2 separate regions of the Homo sapiens genome follow, and region 1 is linked to region 2. The links come from fine-mapping of genetic effects on gene expression. Tissue or cell type: pancreas. Region 2 holds a variant in brackets; the other region holds the start of a gene. All regions are shown on one strand. Distances are from middle to middle.

Region 1 (8,242 bases), 810 kb before region 2:
TTGTAAGGTTCAATTCCTAACCAGGAGAAGTGATAATTCATTGAATGGAAGGGCATGGTTATCTCCTAATCAAGGAAAGGCTAATTAGCTGATTCATGGCATAAATCTACAGACATTTACTAATTCCTTTTATGGAATCTTCAAATATGTCCAGGCCATTCTAGTCTCCATAAAATGTGACTGTGTTTTAAAGATGAAAATGTTTATTCTAAGAAGGGGTGTCTGGTTTGTTCAGAACTCCGCAAACTACTGAAATGATGTTTTCAGGACCAAAACAGCATTTGGTGATTATATAAATCAGGCATGAACATACCCACACACATGCATGCACAGTTTACAGCTAAGAGGACATGTGAAAATTCCCCTACAGAAAGCAGAGCTACGGAATAAATCTGAAGACAGCCAGAACTACTAAAAACGGGGAGTACATCTGGATGAACCCATCTGGGTTAAATATCCAGTGCATGACTGGCTTAACTAATTGATACTCTATTTATTTTTATATGAAATGGCTAATATACCTTCCAGGTATTCTGTTAACCCCAGGACTAAATGTTTCAGATTAGATTATACCCAAGACAAAAAACTGGACCAAATACAAAACAAAAGTGATAGAAATCTCACCTTCTAGATTCCATCTTCTTAAAGATAAGGTTGGCCAGGCATGGTGGCTCACGCCTGTAATCTCAGCACTTTGGGAGACCGAAGAGGGTGGATCACTTGAGGCCAGGAGTTCAAGACCAGCCTGGTCAACATGGTGAAACCCCGTCTCTGCTAAAAATACAAAAATTACCTGAGTGTGGTGGCGGGCGCCTGTAATCCCAGCTACTCGGGAGACAGGTACGAGAATCACTTGAACTTGGGAAACGGAGGTTGCAATGAGCCCAGATCATACCACTCCACTCCAGCCTAGGTGACAGAGTGAGACCCTGTCTCAAAAAAAAAAAAAAAAAAGGGAGGCCAAGGCGGGCAGATCACGAGGTCAGGAGATCGAGACCATCCTGGCTAACACAGTGAAACCCCGTTTCTACTAAAAATACAAAAAATTAGCCGGGCGTGGTGGGGGGCGCCTGTAGTCCCAGCTACTCGGGAGGCTGAGGCAGGAGAATGGCGTGAACCCGGGAGGCGGAGCTTGCAGTGAGGGGAGACTGCGCCACTGAACTCCACCCCAGCCTGGGAGACAGCGAGACTCTGTCTCAAAAAAAAAAAAAAAATCAAGAAGATAATATATAAGAAATAAATTCCTTCATCAAAAAGGAAAAAAACACAATCAAACCTTTTTGCAGTTGTTTTAAAACTAACCAGTGAGTGAATGAGGGTGAGAAAGTGAAAACAGAGCTTTCTGCAACAGACCACCACTTCTCAGAGTACGATATATATATACATATATACATACACACACGTATTTTATATATATATATATAAAACTAAACTAAAAGAAAAAGTTCTTAGTTTTATTCTGGCCCTTATCTATCAGTTTCGAGCAGCAGATAATTGTATTTCCAAGACATAAGGGAGTGTCATTGTTCTTCCAAGCAGAATCAGTCCTCCCAAAGGATGAGCACTTTAGCTCATGTAAAATTTTGAATTGATTATGGGTGAGAACCAGCCCTCTTTGTGCACCTTAATGATTCTATGCCTACACAAGAGAAATGTTAAATTGTTTTTCAGTAATACATTTGTTCCTCAAAACCACATAATCACATCATTATTGCCCTTATCTGGTATTATTTAATCTTACAATTCTTTCACAGAAAAGCAACTATAGAAAACAGATATATGTAACCAGGAATCAAATGGTATTCATTAAAAAAAAAAAAAAAGAAAAAAAAAACCTATAACCATGAATACCAAGTATTTTCCTAAACTGGGTACTAAAACTCCAACCAGTGCTAACATGTAAGTTAAAAAAAAAAAAAAGCCTCTTTTTCTTCAGGCACACATTTAAAGGGAAGGAGAAAGGGGGATGAAAATTTCTTGAATAACTTTGGCAAAAAAAGTAAATATAGTGAAGTACAGTTCATACATATTTTCTACAGACCACCAGGCAACCCTAAAGACCTCTAGATTCTCCCTCACCCCCATGACAGAGTATCCAAAATAACAACTGTTTTTTTTTTTTTGAGACGGAGTCTCGCTCTGTCGCCCAGGCTGGAGTGCAGTGGCGTGATCTCTGCTCTCTGGAACCTAAGCCTCCCGGGTTCAAGCGATTCTCCTGCCTCAGCCTCCGGAGTAGCTAGGACTACAGGAGCGCATCACCACACCCAGCTAATTGTATTTTTAGCAGAGATGGGGTTTCACCATGTTGGCCAGGATGGTCTCGATCTCTTAACCTCGTGATCCGCCCGCCTCGGCCTCCCAAAGTGCTGGGATTACAGGCGTGAGCCACCGCGCCTGGCCATAGTTTCTAAGAATGTTACAAACTAATGTTGCTCACAACTACCACATAATCAAGAGTTTACTTTCTCCTTGGATTACGTAACTAATTTTCTCAATAAACTTTTTTTAAAAAAAACAAGAAATCTATTATGGTCAACCCACAATTATCCAAGATTGGAGCTACGCAAGTTAAAAATATTCTTTTTGATGCTTCCCACATTCTCAGCTCTTTAGTAAACAAGGAACACACAAAATGTGAAACTGAAATTGAAGTACCTGGGACAATGAAAACAGCAAAAAATACTTCTAATTTAAGTTTGGTGGAGGAAAAGCTAATCTTTTGGAATGCGTTTATACGTGTTGCACCCATTTTGCTGTTACGTGTTATTGCCAAGTTCCTTAACTGTAGTGTAAGTTGTTACCACTGTATTGCCTTATGGAAACTGTAATACTTTCAGTAAGAATATCAAACCCAGGTTTGTTTTTCTTATCCTAGTGTAATAATTTATATCAACTTCCAGTTAAGTCAGGTAGTAAGAAAAGGAAAGATCACCGAAGCAAAGTAATTTTTTTTAACTCGAAAGGATCTCCCAATTTTTCAAAATCAAGTGTATGGATCTTGGCATAGAGACACTACTCCCCTGTCCCCCTTTTGAAGAAGGGAGTTAATTTTTGTCATGTTATTACCAACGTTTTCATTCATTAGGCAAGACGTCTACCAATGAATCTTTTCCAGATGCACTGTTCCCTATGGTTGGCTTATTTCCATTTAATTTATGTGAGATCTACTACCAGTAGTCATTCTCAACATCAACTAGTCATCTTTCCCTGGGTCTGAAGTCTAGCATCCTCAAGTTCCCATAGCGATAACTACTTTCAAACCCATAATCTGCTCAATAGCTCTGCCCTTGCAAACAAAAGCTTGTGGTGGTTGGAGGCCCCGCGCGAAAACCTTTAGGTGTTGAAGGACCTGGACTGGCCGCCACGCCACACTAGCCTATTACAGGAGCAGCCACAGGCTCCGGGAGACTAGAACCCGCCTGCAGTCGGGGAGGAGCCCTGACCCAGCTAGACCAAGCAAACCGGCGGTTTACAAGCTGGCCAGCCTCTGGATGGGTGCACACACCGGGGGGCGGGGAGGGAGAGAGCCCCTAAAAGGCATAAGTGGCTGGGAGGGTGGGCAGGACAGGCTAAAGTTCATGGAAGCGAGGTGCCCCTCGTGCACGCCTAGGCAACCCGGTCGACGCCACAGGCAGGTACTGGCTTAGGTCGGAGAGGTCGGTCCTCCCGGGCCCTCGGGCGCTCATGAGAACGCCGACTGCGGGAAGCGGCTCCGAGAGATGGAGACGCACGCCCCCGCCACCCCCACCCTGTTGCTCACCGGTGCTGCAGCCCCACGAGTCCCAGAGTGATCACATGCGGTACATCCAGCTGCGTGGGCCACTCTCCTGAGGCGATGCACCCGAACACGCCACATTCCTCTCGGATCCCCAACTCCTCCAGCTCCATGTCGCCGCCGAAAGCACGTGGAAGGACCTGCCGCTGCGGCCAAGGTGTAAGCACCAACCAGCTGCCAGCTCGGCCCGTCGAGCTCAGAAGCTCGCGCTCGCGACAGGCTCTTCCTTCCCGAGGGTGGCCCCAGCTACTGCGGCGGCGCGCGCTGTCCCTAGGTGGCGTGGCCAGCTCAGCCCTGCTCCTCCCCCTCCGAGTCCACCAACGAGCGAGGGCGGAGGGGCGGTCCCGCGGCTGAGGGGCGGGGTCACGGATGCTGTAGGGTGGAGCTAGCCTTCCCCTAAGAGCTGCCTGGAAAGCTGTATTTGCTGCACGTGGAAATCTCCGTTATTTTCCAGCACCCAACAGTAGCGTAATGGGAGTAACGGACTTAACCTCATTTCTCTTTCAGAGCATTTAGCCTTCATATGCCCTTCCCTGCATGCTTCCCCCAGGCCGTCAAGACTTGGTACGCTCCAACTTCTGAGTCGCTCCCGCAGCCGAGAAGGGGCCGGGGTATGCGAGCTTCCGCAGAGTGGGGAGGGGCCGCCAGTGCGCGCCACTTTTCGCCTGTCCGGGCACTGCGCCAGCGCGGGGCGGCCCGGAGGCGGGGTCGCGTCTCTGCGCCTGCGCGGCGGGAAGCCAGTGGGGCGTTGTTTCGTCCGATATCCGCGTTTCAGTCTCCGCCCATACCCCTCCGGGTTAGGCGGCTGTAGCGGAGCTCGAAAAGAGTGGCGCAGGGTCGCGCGGCCCCGCCTCCTTCCCCGCCCAGCGAAGCTCTCTGACCACCCCTCTTTTCTAGAGTTCTGCCTCGCTTCCCGGCGCGGTCGCAGCCCTCAGCCCACTTAGGATAATGGCGACAGCTGAGGGTGAGTAACAGGGATCCGGGCCCTTCACGGTCTCCCTGACCCCCAGGCCGTGAGCTCGCGGCCACGTGCGAGCCGCGAAACTCTGTCCCGCCTCCCTGCAGCAGCGCCTCTAGGCAGCCGCGCGGGCGCACACGTGGCCCAGGCGCTCCCGGGCCTCCCCGAACTTTACTGCCTCGGGGATGGGGAGAAGGAGCAAAGTAGAGGAGAACGAGAAATGGCCAAGGGGTGGAAAGGTGCCTGGAAGTATTATTTATAATCAATAGCTATTGCAAAATACAAGCAAATCAGTCTTGATTCGTCAAAACCTGAGTCTTGCTTTGCCCGTTAGGTTAATGACCTTTCTAAGAAGGTTAATAATTGAAACTTTTGAAAGACCTGTCTAGAGGCCGGGCCTGGTGGCTCACGCCTGTAATCCCAGCACTTTGGGAGGCCAAGGCGGGCGGATCACCTGAGGTCAGTAGTACGAGACCAGCCTGGCCAACATGGCGAAACCCCGTCTCTTACTAAAAATACAAAAAATTAGCTGGACGTGGTGGCGCGCGCCTGTAATCCCCAGCTACTCAGGAGGCTGAGGTAGGAGAATCGCTTGAACCCGGAGGCGGAGGTTGCAGTGAGCCGAGATCGCGCCATTGCACTCCAGCCTGGGCGACAAAGCGAGACTCCGTCTCAAAAAAGAAAAAGAAAAACCTGTCTAGGGGGCGTGTGTGTAAGTAGTCTTTGATGCCATGGTGTGTGTGTGTGTGTGCACGCGCGCGTGAAGTAGTCTTTGATGCCACGATAGCTTGGGGTGTGTGTACGTGCGTGTGCGTGTTTAAGTAGTCTTTGATGTCATGGGTGTGTATGTGTGTGCGCGCGCGTGTTGAAGTAGTCTGATTCCATGATGGCTGGGGAGGGGGGCTGTTTTTAGGTAGTCTTTGATGCCATGATGGTGTGTGTGTGTGTGTGTGTGTGTGTGTGTGTGTGTGTGTGTTCGTTCCAGTAGTCTTTGATGCCACGATGGCTTTGAAGAACTCCAAAACCTTTAGGCAAAAAAGTTGCACTATCAGGAAAGATTGTTCTTGCTATTTATGCTGGAAAAAAACAAATGCTGGTTTTTTCCACACACCCAGTTGCTATATGTATAGTGAGGCAAATTGCTTTTGTGGCTGCTGGGTACATTCTTTTCCACATAGAAAGTAACTGAATTCAGATTTTAAAAAGCTGTAGACTCAGGCCGGGCGCTGTGGCTCACGCCTGTAATCCCCAGCACTTTGGGAGTCCCAGGCGGGCGGATCACGAGGTCAGGAGATCGAGATCATCCTGACCAACATGGTGAAACCCCGGCTCTACTAAAAATGCAAAAATTTGCTGGACGTGGTGGCGTATGCCTGTAATCCTAGCTACTCGGGAACCTGAGGCAGGAGAATCACTTGAACCGGGGAGTCAGAGGCTGCAGTGAGCCGGGATCGCGCCACTGCACTCCAGCCTGGCGACAGAGAGAGACTCTGTCTCAAAAAAAAAAAAAAAAAAAAAAAAAAGCTGTAGACTCAGCAAAAAAGATTCAGATGATATTGAGTATCAACTCCCTAGAATCAAGGCAAGGACCAGAATTTTTCTTGCAATCATGGTACCTGTACCTCTAAAATGGCAAATCTCTAAAATCTTTGCTCTTCCACTTCTTTCCATTTGTGTACCGTTGGCAGGTTGATTTTTCTTAAATGTCACTTTTATGGTCTCTAAAAGGCAAAAGTGGCAACAAAGGCAAAAATGGCATCTCTAGAGATGTTAAATCCAGTCTGTCCAGTCTGAAATCCCTTTTCATTCAAATCCTGAATACTGCTATCCCTTCTACCTCTTCAGCCCTAACTTTGATTTTTCTCTCCTGTGAATCCTTAGCTATGTTCCAGTCAGGTTAATTCACCAAAGTTTGTTTTTCATTATATACATTTTATTTATATTATTTTTCCCAGAACATTGCTGGCTAATGGAAATATAATGTAAATTTGTCTTCTATAAGCCACATTTTAAAAAGTAAAATAATAAAAAAAACTGGTGCAATGTGTTTATATATATATATATATATATATATATATATAAAAGGTTTTTTTTGTTGTTGTTTTTTGTTTGTTTTGCTTTGTTTTTGAAATGGAGTCTCGCTCTGTGTGGCCCAGGCTGGAGTGCAGTGGCAAGATCTCAGCTCACTGCACCCTCCACTTTCCAGGTTCAAGTGATTCTCCTGCCTCAGCCCCCCAAGTAGCTGGGATTACAGGCACACTCCACCACACCCGGCTAATTTTTTTTTGTATTTTTTAGTAGAGTCAGGGTTTTGCCATGTTGGCCAAGCTGGTCTCAAACTCCTGACCTCAAGTGATCTGCCTGTCTCAGCCTCCCAAAGTGCTGGGATTACAGGCGTGAGCCCATTTTAATATATTTTATTTAACCCTATATACACAAAATACATTTCAACATGGAGTCAAGATGAAAAATTCTTTAGATATTTTACAATTTTTTATATCGAATGCAGTATATATTTTAACAAATGACATTTCAACTTGTAATAGCCACATTTCTAGTGGCTGCCTTATTGGACAGCAGAGTCCTAGAATTTTCTTATCCTTTGTGTAAATTCTGTGCTTTCCCAGACTCTTAAATTTCAATTCCATGAATCATTTTCAGTCCTCATCAATCTTTCCAGAATTCATCTACAAATTTGTAGCAACCATTTTGGTACTTGCAGGGTATGTCACGTATGGTTGTTTCTTATGTTGTTTCTACCCATTAATTCAAATTCCTTCCCTCTTTAATGACTAAGTAATACAGATTCAACTAAATTAAGGGGAGGGGCATTAGATACAAACTTTGCCCGGGCTTACTGCATATTAATATATATAAATGTTAATTTCTTTATCTGATCTGGGCACTGTTTTTTTTGTTTTTGTTTTTTCTTGAGACGGAGTCTCCCTCTCTTGCCCAGGCTGGAGTGCAGTGGCGCCATCTCAGCTCACTGCAACCTCCGCCTTTCAGGTTCAAGCGATTTTCCTGCCTCAGCCTCCCAAGTAGCAAGGATTACAGGCGTGCACCAACACATCCGGCTAATTTTTGTAATTTTAGTAGAGACAGGATTTTACCATGTTGGTCAGCCTGGTCTTGAACTCCTAACCTCAAGTGATCCGCCCGCCTCGGCCTCCCAAAGTGCTGGGATTACAGGCATGAGCCACTGTTCCCGGCCCACTGTTCTTTACCCTTCCCTCTCTTTTATCCTCCATGATGAATTCTCAAAGCTACTATCTTAAATATCTTGCATCTTTGCCCACTACTCTTTCCTTAGACCAAGACATTTCTTTTTCTTTTCCTTTTTTTTTATTGAGACAGGGTCTCACTCTATCACCCAGGCTTGAGTGAAATAGTGCAAATCTTGGCCCACTGCGGCCTCGACCTCCCCAAGTAGCTGAGACTACAGGCATGCACCACCATGCTGGGCTAATTTTTGTTTTTTTGGTAGAGATGGGATTTTGCCCTGTTGC
Region 2 (8,242 bases):
TTAAATTACGTGAGATGATGACTTTTTTTTTTCAGATCATACAGTTATTTGATAACACTAGCTTGTCCTGATAGTTCTCATTTGCAATTAGATGTATGCTGCCTTTTTGTATTCAAGAGAAAATGTTTCCAGATAGATTCGTGGGGCTTAAAAGACTCACATTAGAGATGAAAAACCAAACAATCCCTGTCCCCCTCAAACCAAAAGCTACTGGTGCTCAATTCACTAGGCAGAGAAGAATGGAGAAACTATGACCCTGGTTTCTTAAGCATTTGCTGACCTCCCCTAGGTTCAGTTTAAAGAGTCTTAGCCTCTTTGTGGTGATTCTCAGAACTATGATATTTCAGGGTTGGGAGGCACTTGGGTTAATATCTAGTCCAATCAAATACCTAGGGCTTGAATTTTTTCTTTTGTATCTTTACCAAAAGATCACAGCTTTGAATACATCTTGAATGCTTTCAGTCTTGAATACATCCAGAGGTGGGGAGCTCACTACCTTATGAGATATCTCATTTCATTTATGGTCAACTCTGTAGGAAATTTTTTACGTTGAACAAAAATCAATTCAAATGCTTTTACTGAGTGCATACTATGCTTCAGGTATTAAGTTCTGAGGATCTAACAAGTGAGCAAAATAGAAAGCAATCTCTGTGCTTTTGGAGTTTGCTTCCTACAGAAGAGAGACAGAATAAAGGCAAGTAAAATGAAGAGCACGACTGGGACAAGTAAGAAAGAAAGAGAATGCCAGGGGCGGACACTTGCAGTCTTAACTAGTGTGGTTAGGAAAGGCCTCATGGACAACTGACTTTCAAGTGGAGTCCTGAAAGAGCCATGTGAGTATCAAGGGGAAGAGCATTCCAGCAGCAGAAACAGTAAGCGCAAAGGGCCTGAGGCAGGTTTATGGAGCAGTGAAGAGGCCAGTGTGATTGGAATGGGGAAGGCAAAGGGGAGGATGGTGAGATATGAGGTTAGAAAGGGAATGGGAGGCAGACCATGGGAGCCAGACCCATGGGGCCTTGGGAGTCTTTGTAAGGATACCGTATTTTACTCTAAACATGATAAGGAGTCATTGGAGGGTCCTAGTACGATTTGACTTAAGTTATAGAAAATTTGCTCTGCAAATAGACTGTATGGGAAAGTAAGTGGGCTTAGGGAGAGCAGTTAGAGACTGCTGCGGAAGTTCGGGCCAGAGACAATGGCATCTTGGTGTGCAAAGTGTGTGGGCTCAGGATGTATTTTGAATAGTGCTCTTTGAGTTTCACCTGCGGATCCTAGCATTATCTCCTGGGGCTTAACACATGTGGTCCTCATGCATATATTCGGACCAAGGTAAAAATAAGGCAAATGCCACTTATTTCTTCCTTTTGACTCTTCCCAGCCCTCTTACTTCTTCCTCATAAGCAACCATCCTAAAGCATATGATGTGTATTTTTCTATTTGTATGAGTTCTTGTAAAACATGTACTTTTTTGTCACAGATTTTTTTTTTTTTTGAGATGGAGTCTCCCTCTGTTGCTCAGGCTGGAGTGCAGTGGTGCGATCTCAGCTCACTGCAAGCTCCGCCTCCCGGGTTCAAATGATTGTCCTACCTCAATCTCCCAAGTAGCTGGGGCTACAGGCACGTGTCACCATGCTTGGCTAATTTTTGTATTTTTAGTAAAGACAGGGTTTCACCATGTTGGCCAGGCTGGTTTCAAACTCTTGACCTCAGGTGATCCACCTGCCACAGCCTCCCAAAGTGCTGGGATTACAGGCCTGAAGCACCACGCCCGGCCTGTCATAGATTTAAAAAATTTTTAAAACTTAAATACCTGACTTTGTGCTATAGATCACCTTCTGTTTCTTTCTGTATTTTAAAAATCAATCTGCATTGCTGAATGTACTGAGTCTGCTGCTTCTGGCTGAAGCGACTTCTTCAAATGAGACAGCTGAGCTGTGAAAAACTCTGTTAGCACCTGTTTCCCTGGAGCCTTCTTCTTTCCAGTCCAAGCCTGTTCACTTCTTCCACTGTTCCCACATAACATGGCTTTGAGCCTTCTCTTGGCCTGGCCACTCTCTTTTGAGCCTTCCACGGCCTATTTTGGCTCATAGTCTTGGGCTTCTGAGAACAGAATCTATGCCTGAAAACCACTTGCCATTTTTCAGGCCTGTAAACAAGGTTCAGTAGCTGAGAAATGGGTGTGGGGACTTGGACTAAGAAAATAGAAGCTACAGGACAAAGAGAGCCCCTAGACTCCACATGTACCCAGAGCAGACTTTGCTTCAATTTTTTTGGGCAGTATAGAGTAGTGGTTAAGAATTTTGGCTCTTAGATTAGATAAATTTAGGCTTGTCTACTCATTCTCCTTCCTACTACACTCTGTGTTACTTTGGGTAAATCACTCAACTTCTCTGAGCTGCATTTTCTTCTTCTGTAAAATTGTGATAATCAGAAATAATTTTGTGAGGCTGTTATTAGATGCAATACTGTATGCAAACTTCTTGGCGCAGAGCCTGATACAGGGTGGGCCCTTGGTAAATATTGGCTGTAATTTTTAAATATAAATTCATACAAACCCAGATTGTCATGAAAATGAAATATGGAGCATTCATTTGCATCACAAAAGATATTAAAAGATTCTCTTTAATAACAATTTCTCTAGTGTATTTCTATAATTTAAATGACCCAAACTGGGTTTTGATGCTGCTTTTCAACAGTATAGATTGTATAGAGCTTGATTTACCTGTATTATGACAGTGAGGGAGATGCCCCACATGACCGTGAGAGATATTTTGAGATTTCCTGTCTATACACAGACATAGTGGTATTATATGTGTTCCCTCTGCCCCCAACCCTTGTCTCTGCCCTGTCTCCTCTCTCAGACTTTTCACAATGGTAATCCCAGCAGTGGGTTATACTTTTTAAGAAATCTTGAGGCTAACACTATATTCCAAGAAGTGGTGCATTCTGTTTTTTCCAGTAAAAACCTACAGTAAATGAAAATATAGAAGTAGAGGACTTGAAGAGACCAGAAGAGTTTGGTGTCATTGAATCCACAGGATTGGAAGGGAACTCAGTGGTCATCAAATCCTCCCTTCTCTTTCTGTAGATGAGGACACTAAGGCTTATGGTGGTGGAGAGACTTGGCTAAGGTCGCCCAGCTTATAAACAGCACAGCAGGAATGCAGACTTCCTGTCCAGCATTCTTTCTTCAACTCATGGTTCCTGGTAAGAATTGGATTTTCATCACCCATTTTTATTCAAGGAATGGAATTTGCACTTTCCCTTGGCATTCTATCCTAGTAAGAAAGTTTTTACTTCAACTTATCCCAATTCCCCCCCTTTTTTTTTTAGAAAGAGTCTCACTCTGTCACAAGGCTGGATTGCAGTTGCATGATCTCGGCTCACTGCAACCTCCACCTCCTGGGTTCAAGTGATTCTCCTGCCTCAGCCTCCCAGGTAGCTGGGACTACAGGTGCCTGCCACCACGCCCAGCTAATTTTTGTATTTTTGTAGAGACGGGGTTTCACCATGCTGGCCAGGATGGTCTCGATCTCTTGATCTTGTGATCTGCCTGCCTCAGCCTCCCAAAGTGCTGGAATTACAGGTGTGAGCCACCGCGCATGGCCCCAATTCCCTCTTTGAACAATTTAAATACCCAAACTCAGCCTGCCATAGAACTATCATAGATCTATGTCATTCTGGATATGGCCCAGAGAAAGGGAACACAGTGCAGGCTACACGCACACAGTCTGTTTTTACCTCCTTTTGCCCCCAACTTGAACTTCTTAAAGGCTGCTCCTCACTTCACTCCTTCCCCTCTATTTAATGTCTCTGCCACTAGAATGTGAGCACCAGGAGAGCCAGGTCTTCATCTGTTTTATTCTCTGGTGTATAAACAGAGCCTGGCATAAAACAAGAGCTAAGTGGATGCTTGCTGAAGGACTAATACACTTATTGAGTGCCTGCAATGTTCCAGGCACTCTTCTTGGCACACTGGGCACACATCCTCCCTTAGTACTAGGAATACGAAGAGGAGAGAAAAAAATATCTGTCTCTGATAGAGAAGCAAGGTTTAAGTTCACCCTGCCTCTCTCTGGCAGACTCAGAGGAAATCTTTTGACCAAAAAACAAGTAGCTTCTCTCCCTAACCCTCACATCATAATAGCATGTCATCATGCCTCACCATGCTACCACAGGCCACACACATGTGGATGTGTGTACATAT[A/G]CACATACACACAAGAGTCAGTTTTAAGTGACTGAAGTAGCAACTAAATTTCCATCTGTTTCCCTAATGTATATTTCTTACAGCCTTGCATGGTACAGGTACCTAAAATTCACACTATCAGAATGATTCTCTGGGTTAAGGAACATCTATAATAGTCCCATTTTGTTTGTTTATTACAAATAATTTCAACTTTTATTTTAGTTTCAGGAGGTGCATGTGCAGGTTTTTTACATGGGAATATTGTGTGATGCTGGGTTTTGGGGTATGATTGATCCTGTCACTCAGGTAATGAGCATAGTACCCAATAGTTACAACCCTTGCTCCCACTTTCTCTCCCTTCTAGTAGTCCCCAGTGCCTATTTTTGCCATCTTGATGTCCACGAGTACCCAATGTTTAGCCCTCACTTAGTGAGAACATATGGTATTTGGTTTTCTGTTCCTGCATTAATTTGCTTAGGACAATGGCCTCTAGCTGCATCCATCTTGCTGCAAAGTACATGATTTTGTTCTTTTTTATGGCTGCATAGTATTCCACGGTGTTTATAAACCCTATTTTCTTTATCCAATCCACTTCCAGTGGGCACTTTGATTCCATGTCTTTGCTATTGTGAATAGTGCTGTGATAAACATACAAGTGCATGTCTTTTTTTTGTAGAACAATTTATTTTCCTCTGTAGACCCACTTTAAATTATAAAGATTTTATCCAGAGACTCCAAAGGTTCTTTATTAGCAACACTGATATGTTCACATGAATTAATTTTTCGGGTCAATGATAGAAATGGACAGAACAGAGGGCATCCAAGAGCTTCCTTAAGAGGAAGTCAAACTGTCACCGTTTGCTGATGATATGAGTGTATACCTAGAAAACCCTGAAGACTCATCCAAAAAGCTCTTAGAACTGGTAAATGAATTCAGCAAAGTTTCAGGATACAAAATTAGTACAGACAAATCAGTAGCTCTGCTATACACCGATAGTGACCAAGCTGAGAATCAAATCAAGAATTTAACCCCTTTTACAATAGCTGCGAAACAAAACAAAACAAAAAACAACTTAGGAATATACCTAACCAAGGACGTGAAAGACCTCTGCAAGGAAAACTGCAAAACAATGCTAAAAGAAATCATAGATGACACTAACAAATGGAAACACATTCCATGCTCATGGCTGGGTAGAATCAATATTGTGAAAATGACATACTCCCAAAAACAATGCACAAATTCAATGCAATTCCCATAAAAATAACTTCACCATTCTTTACAGAACTAAAAAAAAATCCTAAAATTCATATGGAACCCAAAAAGAGCCCACATAATCAAAGCAAGACTAAGCAAAAAGAATAAATCTGGAGGCATCACATTACACAACTTCAAACTATACTATAAGGTCATAGTCACCAAAACTACATGGTACTAGTATAAAAATAGGCACATTTTATAGAATAGAATAGAGTCTGTTCTATAAAACAGAATAGAGAACAGAATAGAGAACACAGAAATAAAGCCAAATATTTACAGCCAATTGATCTTTGACAAAACAAACAAAAACATAAAGTGGAGAGGGGAAAGGACACTGTATTCAACAAATGGTTCTGGGATAATTGGCTAGCCACATGTAGAAGAATGAAACTGGATCCTCATCTCTCACCTTTTACAAAAATCAACTTGAGGTGGATCCAACACTTAAATATAAGACCAGAAACCATAAAGATTCTAGAAGATAACATCAGAAAAACCCTTATAGACATTGGCTTAGGCAAAGACTTCATGACGAAGAACCCAAAAGCAAATGCAACAAAAGCAAATATAAATAGATGGGACTTAAACCAAAAAGCTTCTGCACAGCAAAAAAATAATCAGCAGAGTTAACAGACAACCTACAGAGAAAATCTTCACAATCTATACCTCTGACAAAGGACTAATATCCAGAATCTACAAAAAACTCAAATAAATCAGCAAGAAAAAACAAATGATCCCAGCAAGAGGTGGGCAGATCGCGAGGTCAAGAGATCGAGACCATCCTAGCCAACATGGTGAAACCTTGTCTCTAGTAAAAATACAAAAATTAGCTGAGTGTGGTGGCACACGCCTGTAATCCCAGCTACTCCGGAGGCTGAGGCAGGAGAATTGCTAGAACTCAGGAGGTGGAGGTTGCAGTGAGCCAAGATCGTGCCACTGCACTCCAGCCCGGTGACAGAGTGAGACTCTGTTTCAAAAAAAAAAAAAAAAAAAAAAAAAAAAAGGTGGGCTAAGGACATGAATAGACAGTTCTCAAAAGAAGATATATAAATGGCCAACAAGCATATGGAAAAATGCTCAACATCACAAACTATCAGGAAAATGCAAATCAAAACCACAATGCAATATCACCTCAGTACTGCAAGAATGGCCATAATTTAAAAATCAAAAAATAATATATTCAGTGAAAAGGGAACACTTTTACACTGCTGGTGGGAATGTAAAATGGGGAAACAGAGGCTTAACAAAACAAAGACTAGGGAAAGTTAAATTATTTCCCTGGTACAGCTACTAGGGAAAACAGTGTGGAGATTCCTTAAAGAACTAAAAGTAGATCTACAGTTTGATCCAGCAATCCCACTACTAGGTATCTACCCAGAGGAAAAGAAGTCATTACACAAAAAAGATACTTGCACACGCGTGTTTACAGCAGCACAATTTGCAATTGCAAAAATGTGGAACCAGCTCAAATGCCCATCAATCAATGAGTGGATGAAGAAAATGTGATATATATATCATGTTTTATATATATATATAAAACATGGAATACTACTCAGCCATAAAGAGGGATGAAATAATGGCATTTGCAGCAACCTGGATGGAATTGGAGACTATTATTCTAAGTGAAGTAACTCAAGAATGGAAAACCAAGTATCATATGTTCTCACTCATATGTGGGAGTTAAGCTATGAGGACGCAAAGGCATAAGAACGATACACTGAACTTTGGGGAATTGGGGGAAATGGTGGGAGGTGGCAAGGGATAAAAGTCTACACATTGGGTACAGTGTACACTGCTGGGGTGATAGGTGCACCAAAATCTCAGAAATCACCGCTAAAGAAGCAACGCATAGACCGGTTACTTTGTGTATCACTGATGTAGAAGTCAGGCCACTGTCTGGGTAGGTAGGTCCTAGTGAGGCATTTGTGAGAAGATCCCTGGGCTTATAGGGGCCACAAGAAGGCTGTTCCTTAGAGGTGGGCAGGAAGGACAGAGGAGATCAATTTTGCTTACTTCACTTCATAGCTTTGCCTAAGGACTAGGCTTGACTTAAATGGAATGAATTTTTTTCTAAAAAAATTTGCTTCAGCATTTTGCCAAATGCTTGCTATAGGAGACACTCCACATATGTTGTTGTTCATCAGTGTGGAGCATTGAAAATAATCCGGAGTCGAACAGAAAAGAGTTCAAATCCACCGTTCTCTACTTTTAGCTGGGTGACATTGGGCAAGTTACTTAACTTTTCTGTTCCTTCATTTATAAAAACTTGAATGATAGAAGCCACCATATATGTTTTATTATATCAATTAAGTGCAGTAGCATCCCTAAAAGTAGATTTCCAGGCACTTGAGTGCTTTTTTGAGTAAACAGATTGAGTGATATCTTCCAGCATTATCTGATATACTCTTCTCCATGATTCTGTGAGGTGGCAACTATATGAGGCCCATTTTGTGAATGGGGAAACAGAGGCTTAACAAAGCAAAGACTAGGGAAAGTTAAATGATTTGCCTAAAGTTGGAGCCAGAGCAAAGATGACTCATAGATCAAAAGAACTGCTTGAAAGTAGCACCCACGATTTTCCTGCAGGCATTTTTGTTCTATTTGATACTAATGAGTTGGCTGTGTGGGCAGTGAGTTGATAAAGGAACATGAACTGAATCATTAAGCCTCCATTTTATTGTCTCCACTGTACAGATTTCACAACTGACTTGGGTGAGGAAATTCCACCAAAAACTTTAATATGGAAAAAAAGAGAAGGAAAAAAAAGGCAAGGTATCTCTAAATAGCTCTGCAAAGGT

The links. PIP is the estimated chance that this variant, and not a neighbour inherited with it, causes the effect.
Region 1: it holds the start of PPAT, and the variant in region 2 is fine-mapped to the expression of PPAT in pancreas (GTEx, PIP 0.94).

What each region holds. Positions count from the first base shown.
Region 1 is chr4:56,431,590-56,439,831 of GRCh38, forward strand. PPAT (phosphoribosyl pyrophosphate amidotransferase) reads right to left here and starts at 4,026. Exons shown (of 11, transcript NM_002703.5): 1 at 3,761-4,026. The coding sequence starts at 3,888. PAICS (phosphoribosylaminoimidazole carboxylase and phosphoribosylaminoimidazolesuccinocarboxamide synthase) reads left to right here and starts at 4,671. Exons shown (of 9, transcript NM_001079524.2): 1 at 4,671-4,739. The coding sequence starts at 4,724. RefSeq lists enhancers at 3,731-3,910, 4,758-5,641 and silencers at 4,001-4,200, 4,341-4,630.
Region 2 is chr4:57,241,261-57,249,502 of GRCh38, forward strand. No RefSeq gene overlaps it. Among named protein-coding and RNA genes, the nearest start is that of IGFBP7, 130 kb to the left of the region's middle. The variant A/G (reference allele first, on the strand shown) is at 4,208.